Linked DNA regions of Homo sapiens. The protein of the gene in region 2 interacts with the protein of the main gene of each other region in a pairwise test. Each region holds a gene or a part of one and is shown on either strand. Other genes may lie near its edges.

Region 1 (6,175 bases), on a different chromosome or scaffold from region 2:
GAGACCATCCTGGCTAGCACGGTGAAACCCCGTCTCTACTAAAAATACAAAAAATTAGCCAGGCGTGGTGGCGGGTGCCCATAGTTCCAGCTACTGGGGAGGCTGAGGCAGGAGAATGGCGTGAACTCAGGAGGTGTAGCTTGCAGTGAGCCGAGATCGCGCCACTGCATTCCAGCCTGGGCGACAGAGAGAGACTCTGTCTCAAAAATAAATAAATAAATAAATAAATAAATAAATAAATAAATAAATAAATAAATAAAATAAAATAAATAAATTCTTCCTGGGCCAGGACTGACCTCTAAAATAGTTTTTAAAATATTTTAAAGAGAAAATAATCACCTATATATAAAAAAGAGGTGTGAATAAGTTGTAATCCACTCATTCAGATCTACAGAAGGTGGATGTTAGAAATTTAACAGAAGTAAGCAAAATAGAATGAAAACCACTTATTTCCTCTAGGTAACAATCTTGTCTCTGTAATAATATGGATTTAGCCAGTTACTTTATGTTTTTTGTTTGTTGTTTGTTTGTTTTGAGATGGAGTCTCACTCTGTCGCCCAGGCTGAAATGCAGTGGCACCATTGTTTTTGTGAATATTTTTGCTGCTGATGTAACTGCAGAAATTAGTCTAGAACTTGTGGAAGTTGTTAAAACCCTTTCATAAGAGCCCAGTTACTATTGCACAATCTAAGGCATGTAGAGTTAACATACCTAGAATGCACATCAAAATGGTCATTAATCTCATTCATGAGAGGTCTGCCCTCATTACCTCCTAAAGGAACCATCTCTTAATACTGGCACACTGGCAATTAAGTTTCAACATATAGACTTTGGAGGAGACACATGCAGATCACAGCAAAGGGGTTTTTAAATCTTTGCTATGCCTATCACTTGCTTTAGTTCTGTTAATTTTGCTTTATTTATTTTGAGTCACAATTATTAGTCTGATACACCTTCAGGATTGTTAAGTATTTTTGATAAATTGAATATTTTATCATTATACAACTTCCCTCTATTTTTCTACTACTTGTCTTGATAATATAGCCACTTTGAGAATAGAACCAGTCCTGCTTTCTATGGTTACAAATTCCATAGTATAGCTTTTTCTTTCCTTTACATTCAATCTATCTGTGCCTTTATGTTTAATGTTTTATCTTCTAGGCATAACATTTAATTGTGCTTTCATTTATTCATTCTGATGATCTCTATCTTTTCATCAGAGTGTTTAGTCAAATCATGTTTAATGTAATTATCAGTATGGTTGGCTGTAAGTCTTGCATTTTGCTCAATGTTTTTCATTTATCTCACTTATTTTTGTCCCTCTGTCCTTTTTCTGGCTTTCTTTTGTGTTAATTGACTGTATCTTCAATTATTTCATTTTAATCTCACAATTGGCTTTTAAAACTCCATTTGTTATAATGAATTATTCTTTTATATATCGCTGGACTCTATTTTGTTTGGAATTTTTGCATCTATGTTCAGGCTATATTAGCCTGTAATAGTCTTATAAGTATTCTTGATGAAATTTTGTATAAAGTTGTTCACAGTATTGTCTTATAATAAAAGATTATATACAAGGATATGTAACTATATTATATAGTATTATATATATATATATATGTATATGTATATATATATATGTATATATATGTATGTATAGAGAGAGAGAGAGAGAGACAGAGAAAGAGAGAGAGAGAGATGAGGTCTCACTCTGTCACCCAGGCTGGAGTGCAGTGGCCCAATTATAGCTCACTGCAAGTTCAAACTCCTGGGCTCAGGCAATCCTCCTGCTCGGCCTCCCAAGTAGCTGGGACTACAGGTGCACACCACCATGCCCTGCTAAATTATTTTTATTTATTTATTTTTTTTAGTAGAGATAAGGTCTTGCTATGTTTCCCAGGCTGGTCTCAAACTCCTGGACTCAAGTGATTCTCACACCTGGGCCTCCCAAAGTGCTGAAATGACAGGCATTAGCTACCACACCCAGGCCATATTTCTGATATCTCTAAGGACTGTAGTAATTTGTATTTTCTTTTGACCAACATTAGTATATTACTGTACCTAATTCTTTTCTATCGGTGATTTCTGCTGTTACTATAATTTCTTGACTTCTATTTTCTTTCACTCTTAGCTTTCTAGCTTCTTGAGATGAAAACAAAATTCATCTGTTTTTACCCTGCCTTTCTAAAAGATGCATTCAAGGCTACAAATTTCCTTCAAAGAATGGCTTTAATTGGATTATGTAAATTTTAATAGGTCATTTCTTTATTACACGTTGAGTATCCCTAATCCAAAAATCTGAAATTTGAAATGCTCCAAAATCTGAAACTCTTTGAGCGCTGACATGACGCTCAAAGGATATGCTCATTGGAACATTTTGGATTTCAAATTTTTGAATTCGAGATGCTTAATCAGTATGATGCAAATGTTCCAAAACTTAAAAAAAAAGAAAAAAAAATCCGAAATCCAAAGCTCTCTGGTCTCACACATTTCAGATAAGGGATACACAACCTGTATTATTTACTTAAAAATATTTTTGTAATTTTTGTTATTTCTTCTTTGACTCAAGAGTATTTACAGGTTTTTTGTCTTAGTAAATTGTTTCTTTCTCTAGTTATCTTTTTATTATTGAACTTCATTTTATTCCTTTGAATTCAGAGAACATTCAACACTTGTGAGATATTCTTTTGGATTCATGATCAGTCTTGGTAAAAATAGTCTATGTGCACTTGAAAAGAATATGAATTATTTTACCGTTGAACACAAGTTTGTCAATTGTTTTTTCATGTATTTTCCATCTATTGATTTTTGGTGTTTCTAAGATGAGTTATTGAGTTATGTATTTTACAGTCTTTCATTGTGATTGTAGATTTGTCTTATTTTTCCTTTTCTGTAAATGTTTGGTAGATTATTTGGTTCATAAATTTTTGGGATTACCCTACCTTTCTGTAGATTTGAGCATTTTTATCACTATAAAGTACACTCCCCATTTCTTCTCTAATGCTGCTTCTTACCTTAAAGTCTGCTTTATAGAATATTGTTATAATTATGCCAGATTTCTTTTGGATGATGTTTGCATGGCTTATTTTTCCATAATTTTACTTTAAAGTTTTCCTTTTCTATATTTAAATTGTGTTTCTTGTAAGCAGTATACAGTCAGAGTTTTAAATTCTTCTTTGTTACTATTAATTTTTTACTTGGAGTATTTAGTTCATTTACATTTTATATAATTATATTCTCCATTTCTAGAAGTTTTTTCCCCAAATGTTCCAATTTCTTTCTAACAGTCTCTTGCTGCTCTTCTCTGAAATTGCATCTTGTTTTTTGTAAACAGTGTATACATTAGCTAATTTATCTATACATATTCTTATCTGTCAATTTCAGTATGTGCAGCCCATGAGAATTTAAGTTTTCTACTTGCTTTTGGTTGGTTTGTTTTGTTTTGCTATCATTTGTAGTCTATTCCTAAGCTTAATTTAACTTCATTTTGAAATCATTGTGCAATTTTATTTATGGTAGTCATGCCAGGATAAGTGAGAGAAGGTCTTCTTTTCTCCAAAGCTTAGTTTATTCATATTTAATGTAAATACAAAAATAGCCCCTCTTTTAAAGGATTGAAGGCTTGTGAAATTAAGATGAGAAAAAGATACTTAACATAGCGCTAGGAATATAATAAAAGCTCAATAAATGTTAGATTTCACTTTTAATTTCACTTTTAATTCTTAGATCAGTATGTTGATTTACTTAATTGTTTCCCACCTCCCTCATTAGAATATACACTCCATAAATCACACAAGTTTTGAAATTCTGTCTACCACTATATTCCCTCAAAGATCAAAAGAGAGCTTGTTGTATCTAGACATTCAGTAAATACTTGTTGGATAAATGAATGGGTGCCAGCAAACAGTAATGTGTTAAATGAAGAGATTATTCCTAAGAGCCTTTCATGTCAAGGGTAGTCAACATAATCTTCTGCATTCAAGGGTGTAATAACCATAAGTATAAAACAACAGCAACAGATTTGTGACATATTTGTGAAACTTGTCATACCTAGAGTTGAGCTTAAATTTTAATTAAAAATTAAATCGATCATTTAGAGTAAGTATCTACAGTGGCTAAATTTGTTTTTCATTTCTATATAGTATTTTCTGTACATATATAAATTGATTATAAATGACATAAATAATGATTTGATATTTTAAAAGATAAAGTCAAAATTTTTGTTTCTGTTTTGCATTACATTCTATAGGTATATGTTTGGCACTCCTCCTCCACAATTCAATTTATTAAATGCAAAATAGTCTCAGGAGGACATGTAAAATCCATGAAACAGAAACTTTCATTTGCATTTTAACAAATTATAGATAGGCATTCAGTCTGAACATACATTCTCCAGACTAGCTATGTTTTGTAGACATATTTGGAAAGGTCTTCATTAAGAAATTTCTGATTCCATCTCAAGCCATTACTGGGGCAATTTCAAGTCTTTATATAATGAAAGAGAAGAAAGTCACACTTCCGTCGAGCAGCCAATATATGCCTCATTCTGCAGCAGGTAATCTAAGATAGATGTAACAGAAGCAATATTAAGAATTAGCAGATATGCTACGTGTAGTGGAAGGCATCTTCATTTTTGTTGTAGTTAGTGAGTCAGTGTTTGGGGTTTTGGGGAATGGATTTATTGGACTTGTAAACTGCATTGACTGTGCCAAGAATAAGTTATCTACGATTGGCTTTATTCTCACCGGCTTAGCTATTTCAAGAATTTTTCTGATATGGATAATAATTACAGATGGATTTATACAGATATTCTCTCCAAATATATATGCCTCCGGTAACCTAATTGAATATATTAGTTACTTTTGGGTAATTGGTAATCAATCAAGTATGTGGTTTGCCACCAGCCTCAGCATCTTCTATTTCCTGAAGATAGCAAATTTTTCCAACTACATATTTCTCTGGTTGAAGAGCAGAACAAATATGGTTCTTCCCTTCATGATAGTATTCTTACTTATTTCATCGTTACTTAATTTTGCATACATTGCGAAGATTCTTAATGATTATAAAACGAAGAATGACACAGTCTGGGATCTCAACATGTATAAAAGTGAATACTTTATTAAACAGATTTTGCTAAATCTGGGAGTCATTTTCTTCTTTACACTATCCCTAATTACATGTATTTTTTTAATCATTTCCCTTTGGAGACACAACAGGCAGATGCAATCGAATGTGACAGGATTGAGAGACTCCAACACAGAAGCTCATGTGAAGGCAATGAAAGTTTTGATATCTTTCATCATCCTCTTTATCTTGTATTTTATAGGCATGGCCATAGAAATATCATGTTTTACTGTGCGAGAAAACAAACTGCTGCTTATGTTTGGAATGACAACCACAGCCATCTATCCCTGGGGTCACTCATTTATCTTAATTCTAGGAAACAGCAAGCTAAAGCAAGCCTCTTTGAGGGTACTGCAGCAATTGAAGTGCTGTGAGAAAAGGAAAAATCTCAGAGTCACATAGACACCTTGGGAAGAGATGGATGTTCCACGAAAGGAATCCAGTGAATAAATCCTTGAAGATCTGTTTCATTGCACTGCATTCTTGCATTGTCTTTTTAACTGTGTCATTAAAGATCACTGAAATCTTCCATAATTGTTTTGACTATGTTTCAGGGAATCTCAGTCTTTGAGGAGATTTTAATCTCACATGCAAATTCAGTGGCTTAGTCAGCTTCCCCACCCTGCAACTTCTTCCTACAAACTTCCTAGAGGAAGACCATCAGCCTGGAGACTATTCGCTGTAAAGATTATAACGGTGAGAATAAGCTCTAAAATAAAACTTCTTGTTGTGCTTTACCTGACTTTTCTGAAGCAAGGACACCCATTCTCCCAGAAAACCCAAAGGAAAAAAAAGAAAGAAAGAAAATTAGATCAATCTTGACATTTAGAACATGGAAGTGAGGATAGATGGTGGTACTTCTTTACAGAATGCTATTTTAATTATTTAAAGGTTTTTTTTTCATTTTTTAGAATCTAACATCCTTTTTTACTGGTGTACGATGTGTAGCAAGTAGTCAGAGGAGTAGATGTAGTTCTGTGAAATATAGTTAGGGAAACAAGGGTCTAGTTGAGGGATATGGGATCAAAACACTGATGAAATAAATATGCTC
Region 2 (6,884 bases):
ATCCTTAGAATCTCTGAAGAGATCTTTTTGTATGCTAATGAAATGACAGGTGGCCGGCAGCTCCTAGGTCGCTTCAGGATGAGAGCTGGTCGCCAGAAAGTTCCAGGCAGAATTAGAGTGTTGGGACTTTCAGTCTCATCCCCTAATCTCTAAGGCTGAAGACTAAGTTCATCACCAGTGGTCATAGTTTAATCAATCATGCCTGCGTAATGAAGTCTCCATAAAAGCTCCAAATGGACAGGGTTCAGACAGCTTCAGGATAGCCCAACACAAGGAGGCTCCTGGAGGATAGTGTGCCCAGGGTGGGCTTCCATGCCCCTTCCCATACCTTTCCGTATGCATCTCTTCATCTGTATCGCCTTTAATACCTTTATAATAAACTGGCACACATAAGTAAGTGTTCTTCTGAGTTCCATGAGCCACTCCAGCAAATTAATCGAACTTAAGGAGGGAATCCTAATGTATAACCAGTTGGTCAGAAGCACAGGTAAAATAACATGGGGCTTTCAACTGGCCCCAAGCCCCAGCCTGAAGTTGTAGGGGAACAGTCTTGTGGACTGGGCCCTCCACCCTTGGGATCTCATGCTGGGTTGGGGTAGATAGTATTAGAACTGAATTGAATAAGAGGTCATCTAGTTGGTGTCCTCTGCAGAATTAAGTGACTGCTTGCTTGGTGAGGAAACTCCCCACATATTAGGTTAGAAGTCTTTTGTGTTGATTGCTACTGAGTGACAGAATAGAAAAAGCACTTTGAGTGTGTTTCTTCAACACATGTTACCCTTAATCTTCCTGCTGAACCCCCATGCAAAGGACCAGGCTGACCTGAACAATTGGGTATATCAAAGGGCACACATGAAGAAGAGGCAGAAGGAAATCATGAAGGCATGCAATGCGCCGGATCAAGCTACCTTTTGGGAAAAACAGAGCATTTGAGGTGTCAGGGGTAAGGGGACTCTCTGAAGGTACACTCTGAAGATACAGAATAAGTAGAGTGGACTTGGGATCCTAAACCCAGCGGAAAGTGAAGAGAAAGGGTAGAGAAATGATTTATGCATGGGTGGAGCAAGAGAGCAGAACTTGAAGCCAGGCCCTGTATTGGCACTAATTTGCTGTGTGACCTTAGGCAAGAGACCTTATTCCTCTGGGTCTCAGTTTTCTTTTCTCTTTTTTTTTTTTTTTTTTTTGAGACGGAGTTATGCTCTTGTCACTCAGGCTGGAGCGCAATGGCATGACCTCGGCTAACTGCAACCTCTGCCTCCTGGGTTCAGGCAATTCCCCTGCCCTGGCCTCCCAAGTAGCTGGGATTACAGGCATGCGCCATCATGCCTGGCTGACTTTGTAATTTTTAAAGTAGAGATGGGGTTTCATCATGTTGGTCAGGTGGTCTCAAACTCCTGACCTCAAGTGATCTACCCTCCTTGGCCTCCCGAAGTGCTGAGATCACAGGCGTGAGCCACGGTGCCCAGCCTCAGTTTTCTCGTGTATAAAAATTAAAGGGAAAAGGGATAAGTTGATTTCTAAGGGTTTTCCCAACTCTAACATCCTGTGGATCCAATTACAAGTTCTTAGAGCTTCCTATATCATGTGTATAGACACAGGTATCCAGGAAGGGAAGGAAAGAGAGAGGGTGTCTCTGAGTCGCTGACAGGGCACATGGAAGCCTAGAAAACCCAGGAAGACTGAGGCTGATCCTGTCTCAGACACAGAAGCTGTAGCGGGTGTTCTAAAGACCTAAGTAAGCATCCTGCTTGTCCTATCTCCCCTATTTGAATTTAAGCCCCAGGAGGACAAAGCTTACTCTCTGGAATCTCCGCGTTTTAGACTTACAAGTGTCTTTAAAGGTCATCTCATCTCAATCCCTTACCCCAAAATGGGAATTCTCTGTATCCTACCACTGAAAGACGGCCCCCACACCTGTGCGTATTTGCCCTTCCACATAATTTACAGAGTGGAGGGCAGAGTTTGATAATCCCTTCATGCAGCTGACCTCCTGCCTCAGGACCCAGGAAATCTCCCTACGGTTCCTCTGACACTGGCTCCAGTGTGCCAGCCTGGAACCTGAAATGCCATTCTCAGCTTCTCTTCAGGGAGTGAGGTGGGCGGACACATGGCAGGTTTTGGAGTCACACAGACCCGGGTTCAAGTCTCACTTCCACTGCTCGTTAACTGAGGGGATTTGGACAAAGTACCCCAGCTTTCTGTGCAGTTAACCTGCAAAACTCCAAGAATAATCCTTCGCGGGACTGGTGAGGATACATGGGGTGTAGGAGATGAGCATTAAACACGTGCTCCCCTACGCTGCTCCTAACCTCCCTGTCTCCACCTGGGTGTGAGCATCTGTGGGGGCAGGAATTGTTTCTTAGCTACAGGATACTCTTTTCCCAGTGCCAAAAACAGTGCTTTTGTGTCCGGAATTGGTGGGTTCTTGGTCTCACTGACTTCAAAAATGAAGCCACCGACCCTCATGGTGAGTGTTACAGCTCATAAAGGCACAGTGCCCAGAGTTTGTTCCTTCTGATGTTCGGATGTGTTCTGAGTTTCTTCCTTCTGGTGGGTTTATTGTCTTGCTGGCTCAAGAGTGAAGCTGCAGACCTTCCGGGTGAGTGTTAACAGCTGATAAAGGCAGAGCAGACCCAAACACTGCGCAGCAGCAAGATTCATTGCAAAAACCAAAAGAACAAATCTTCCACCACGTGGAAGGGGACCCGAGCCGGTTGTCAGTGCTGGCTGGGGCAGCCTGCTTTTATTCTCTTATCTGGCCCCACCCACATCCTGCAGATTGGTCCATTTTACAGAGAGCCAATTGGTCTGTTTTACAGAGAGCTGATTGGTCCGTTTTGACAGGGTGCTGATTGGTGCATCCACAAACCCTGAGCTAGACACAGGGTGCTGATTGGTGCATTTACAAACCTTGAGCTAGATACAGAGTGCCCATTGGTGTATTCACAATCCCTTAGCTAGACATAAAGGTTCTCCAAGTCCCCACTAGACTCAGGAGCCCAGCTGGCTTCACCCAGTGGATCCCGCCCCGGGGGCAGCAGGTGGAGCTGCCTGCCAGTCCTGCGTGTGTGCCCGCACTTCTCTGCCCTTGGGCGGTCGATGGGACCAGGCACCATGGAGCAGGGGGTGGCACTCGTCGGGGAGGCTTGGGCCATGCAGGAGCCCAGGGTGGGGAGACTCAGGCATGGCGGGCTGCAGGTCCCGAGCCCTGCCCCACAGAGAGGCAGCTAAGGCCCAGCGAGAAATCGAGCTCAGTGCCGGTGGGCCGGCACTGCTGGGGGACCTGGCGCACCCTCCGCAGCTGCTGGCCCAGGTGCTAAGCACTTCACTGCCCAGGGCTGGGGGCCTGCCGGCCGCTCCGAGTGCAGGGCCCGCCAAGCCCACGCCCACCCAGAACTCTAGCTGGCCTGCAAGCCCTGCATGCAGCCCCGGTTCCTGCCCGTGCCTCTCCCTCCACATCTCCCAGCAGGCTGAGGGAGCCGGTTCTGGCTTTGGCCTACCCAGGAAGGGGCTCCCACAGTGCAGTGGCTGGCTGAAGGGCTCCTCCAGCGCGGCCAGAGTGGGCACCGAGGCCGAGGAGGCTCCGAGAGCGAGCGAGGGCTGCGAGGGCTACCAGCATGCTGTCACCTCTCACTTTGCCTATTATAAAAAATGAGAGAGAGAAAATAAAAGCGAATTTATATGTGACCCCAGAATCTAGAACAGAGCTCTTTATCTCTCTCTCAGCAAGGCCTATTAACTAACACAGTTTTGCTGCTGTCTGTTTTCAGAACAAAGACTTGTTCTGTGTACTCAGACAGTCTAAAATGAAGGTTGAAAAAAACAGCTCATGTCCATACACAGAAACAGAAACTGAACCGAACACCGAAACTGAAACTGTTTGTCTCTTCCTGAGAAACGAGCAAACCTGAAAGCTACTCTCTCAGCTTCAGAGGGAAAAAATGGTTGTAGATTTCTGGACTTGGGAGCAGACATTTCAAGAACTAATCCAAGAGGCAAAACCCCGGGCCACATGGACGCTGAAGTTGGATGGCAACCTTCAGCTAGACTGCCTGGCTCAAGGGTGGAAGCAATACCAACAGAGAGCATTTGGCTGGTGAGTGTGGGTTTCCCAGGCAATAGCTCTTCTGAGAAGAGAGGCTCAGGCTCAGCTTAGCATGATTTATTCCTCTGAGAGCTTGTTGAAGGAGTAAATGTCACCAGGGCCTCCATCCTATTGTGGTCATAGTACTCTTTAGGGTCGACATGATAAGACGACTCCAAACCTCCATTTTGTTTAACTGCTGGAAGTTTCTTCTTTTACTAGGTTTCCCTCCGTAAATATTTCTGGAAAACCCTGGAGAAGGCTCCCTATTCCATAAATTTTCCCTTCTAGTTTCTCACCACGTCATTTGTTCCAGACTACCTCTAGAGTCTTTTGCAGTCTCCCCAGCAGTCCTGACCAGCTTCCCCCAGCTGCACCAGCTCTCCAAGCCTTGGCACTGTTCAGTACAAGCCTGGGACGGAGCCTTTTTTTTTTTTTTAAATATCTTAAGAATTGGCTAAGATCAAGCAGTTACTCTGAACATTGCTTTACTGAAGGCCTGGGGATAATAGTATAGAATGATGTTGCAAAAACTAAATCTAAAACCCAGTTCATGGAGTCACCAAGTAATACTCCTCCCTTACTCACCACTTCCCTCTTTAACCCCCAGCAAGCCTCCAGGTTGCAGGAACCAGTTTCCTTGACCATGTTAGGAGGGTGAGAATTGCTGACCTGGATAATCAAATTTATTTTTAAATGACACACAGGACCTTCGGTATAGTTTTCATCTGACCTATTACTCAGCTTGCCTGCCTGCCCCATCCTGCCTCAGGTATGGCCTACTCCATTCCTTATGGACTATTAGCTATGCCATGCATCTTCAGACTTCCACACTCTTGTTCATGGAGTTCTGCTTGTTCAGCAGACCCTCCCCTCACCCCTCCCTGCTCATCCTTCAAGGCCCACTCTAGTGCCTCCTCCTCCTAAAAGCATTCTCTGGTTCTCCTAGGCAGAGTAAGTATTCCTTCGTATACATTCCCATAAGATAATGGGATAAGATAAAATATATATGTATATGTATACATAAATGATATATAATTATATATACATATGTACTATGTATTTCAGAATAATAAATTTATAAATAATATATGTATTATTATATATTGTATCAAATACAGTATATGCTTATTTTTAGCTGCAGAATCTGTTGTTTAAATAAAGCCTCCTAAACGTCTCCAGAACAGTTCTCAAGTCACTTGTCAGAGCCCGTATAGCAGTCATGTTGCTCTGCTTTCTAATCCAGGGAAATGTGTAAATATTTCTGTCCACACCAGCCAGAGCTTTTTGAGGGACTCATGATGTCTTACAACGTTTTGGCACTCCTCCAAACAGAAAGAAGGTGTTTCTCCTGTTGGGATGATTTGATTTGATTGTCATTTCGAGATCGGAAAAGCAACCTACCAGTGTACTTTTGGAAAATATCAATCAGCTTTTGAAAAGCATTTTGTAGTTTACAAAGTGTTTTCACATACATCGTCTCTTTTGATGCTGCCAATATAACCCTTGAATTTTTTTTTTATGGATTCAAACAATGAGGGTTATAGAAGGGAAGGGCTTTGCCCAAGGTCTTCCTGATGTAAACTGGATCTTCAACCCAGGTATGAGGGATGCAGTCTGTTTCTCCAGGTGTGAGAGATTAGCTACACTACTCACCAGAGGCAACGTGTTACAGCAGGTAAATGAGTTGAATTTCAGATGGCCTGAGATTAGCAGCATGCCTCTAACATTTACCCTGTGTGTCCTTAAGCAGGTTGCGTATCCTTTTCATGATTCAGTTTCCTTATCTGGATATTGGGTTTAATAGTGCTTACTTCACAGATGAAATGGGATAAAATTATAAAGACCAATTATATTGTATGCATCAAAATAGATACTTTACCAAAGCTTTCTATGACCAAAATTAGGAATAAGTTTCTCTGGAAGATGGCAGACATGATTTTCCCTCAGAGGCATCTGGAGATGTTTTACTAGCAAAGAGGTAGACTTGGGTGTAACATATGGGTGGATACTCAGTAGGTCACAGGAAAAAGCCTTATCTGAAACATAGTCCTTCTTGTTCCTGTTTATCAATGACTGGGACAATCTAAATCACATGCATTTTTTCAAATGGAAAAGGATGTTAGTGACAGGGGCCAAGACCATTTTCCCTCAGGTTAACAACCAGATGAAGGCATAATGGGTGTCTTCCTTCTGACTGCAGGTTCCGGTGTTCCTCCTGCCAGCGAAGTTGGGCTTCCGCCCAAGTGCAGATTCTGTGCCACACGTACTGGGAGCACTGGACATCCCAGGGTCAGGTGCGTATGAGGCTCTTTGGCCAAAGGTGCCAGAAGTGCTCCTGGTCCCAATATGAGATGCCTGAGTTCTCCTCGGATAGCACCATGAGGATTCTGAGCAACCTGGTGCAGCATATACTGAAGAAATACTATGGAAATGGCACGAGGAAGTCTCCAGAAATGCCAGTAATCCTGGAAGTGTCCCTGGAAGGATCCCATGACACAGCCAATTGTGAGGCATGCACTTTGGGCATCTGTGGACAGGGCTTAAAAAGCTGCATGACAAAGCCGTCCAAATCCCTACTCCCCCACCTAAAGACTGGGAATTCCTCACCTGGAATTGGTGCTGTGTACCTCGCAAACCAAGCCAAGAACCAGTCAGCTGAGGCAAAAGAGGCTAAGGGGAGTGGGTATGAGAAATTAGGGCCCAGTCGAGACCCAGATCCACTGAACATCTGTGTCTTTATTTTGCTGCTTGTATTTATTGTAGTCAAATGCTTTACATCAGAATGATGAAAATAGGC

Evidence for each region. The genes of interacting proteins can lie anywhere in the genome.
Region 1: the proteins of RTP4 (region 2) and TAS2R10 interact in binary tests that used the Homo sapiens proteins (3 or more experiments, as listed by UniProt).

Annotation. Positions count from the first base shown.
Region 1 is NC_000012.12:10,824,697-10,830,871, reverse strand, and holds TAS2R10 (taste receptor type 2 member 10), read left to right. Parts: upstream 1-4,513; 5' UTR 4,514-4,602; coding exon 4,603-5,526; 3' UTR 5,527-5,653; downstream 5,654-6,175. UniProt on the Homo sapiens protein: Gustducin-coupled strychnine receptor implicated in the perception of bitter compounds in the oral cavity and the gastrointestinal tract. Signals through PLCB2 and the calcium-regulated cation channel TRPM5.
Region 2 is NC_000003.12:187,364,501-187,371,384, forward strand, and holds the start of RTP4 (receptor-transporting protein 4), read left to right. Parts: upstream 1-3,884; 5' UTR 3,885-3,941; coding exon 3,942-4,096; intron 4,097-6,287; coding exon 6,288-6,873; 3' UTR 6,874-6,884. UniProt on the Homo sapiens protein: Chaperone protein that facilitates the trafficking and functional cell surface expression of some G-protein coupled receptors (GPCRs). Promotes functional expression of the bitter taste receptor TAS2R16.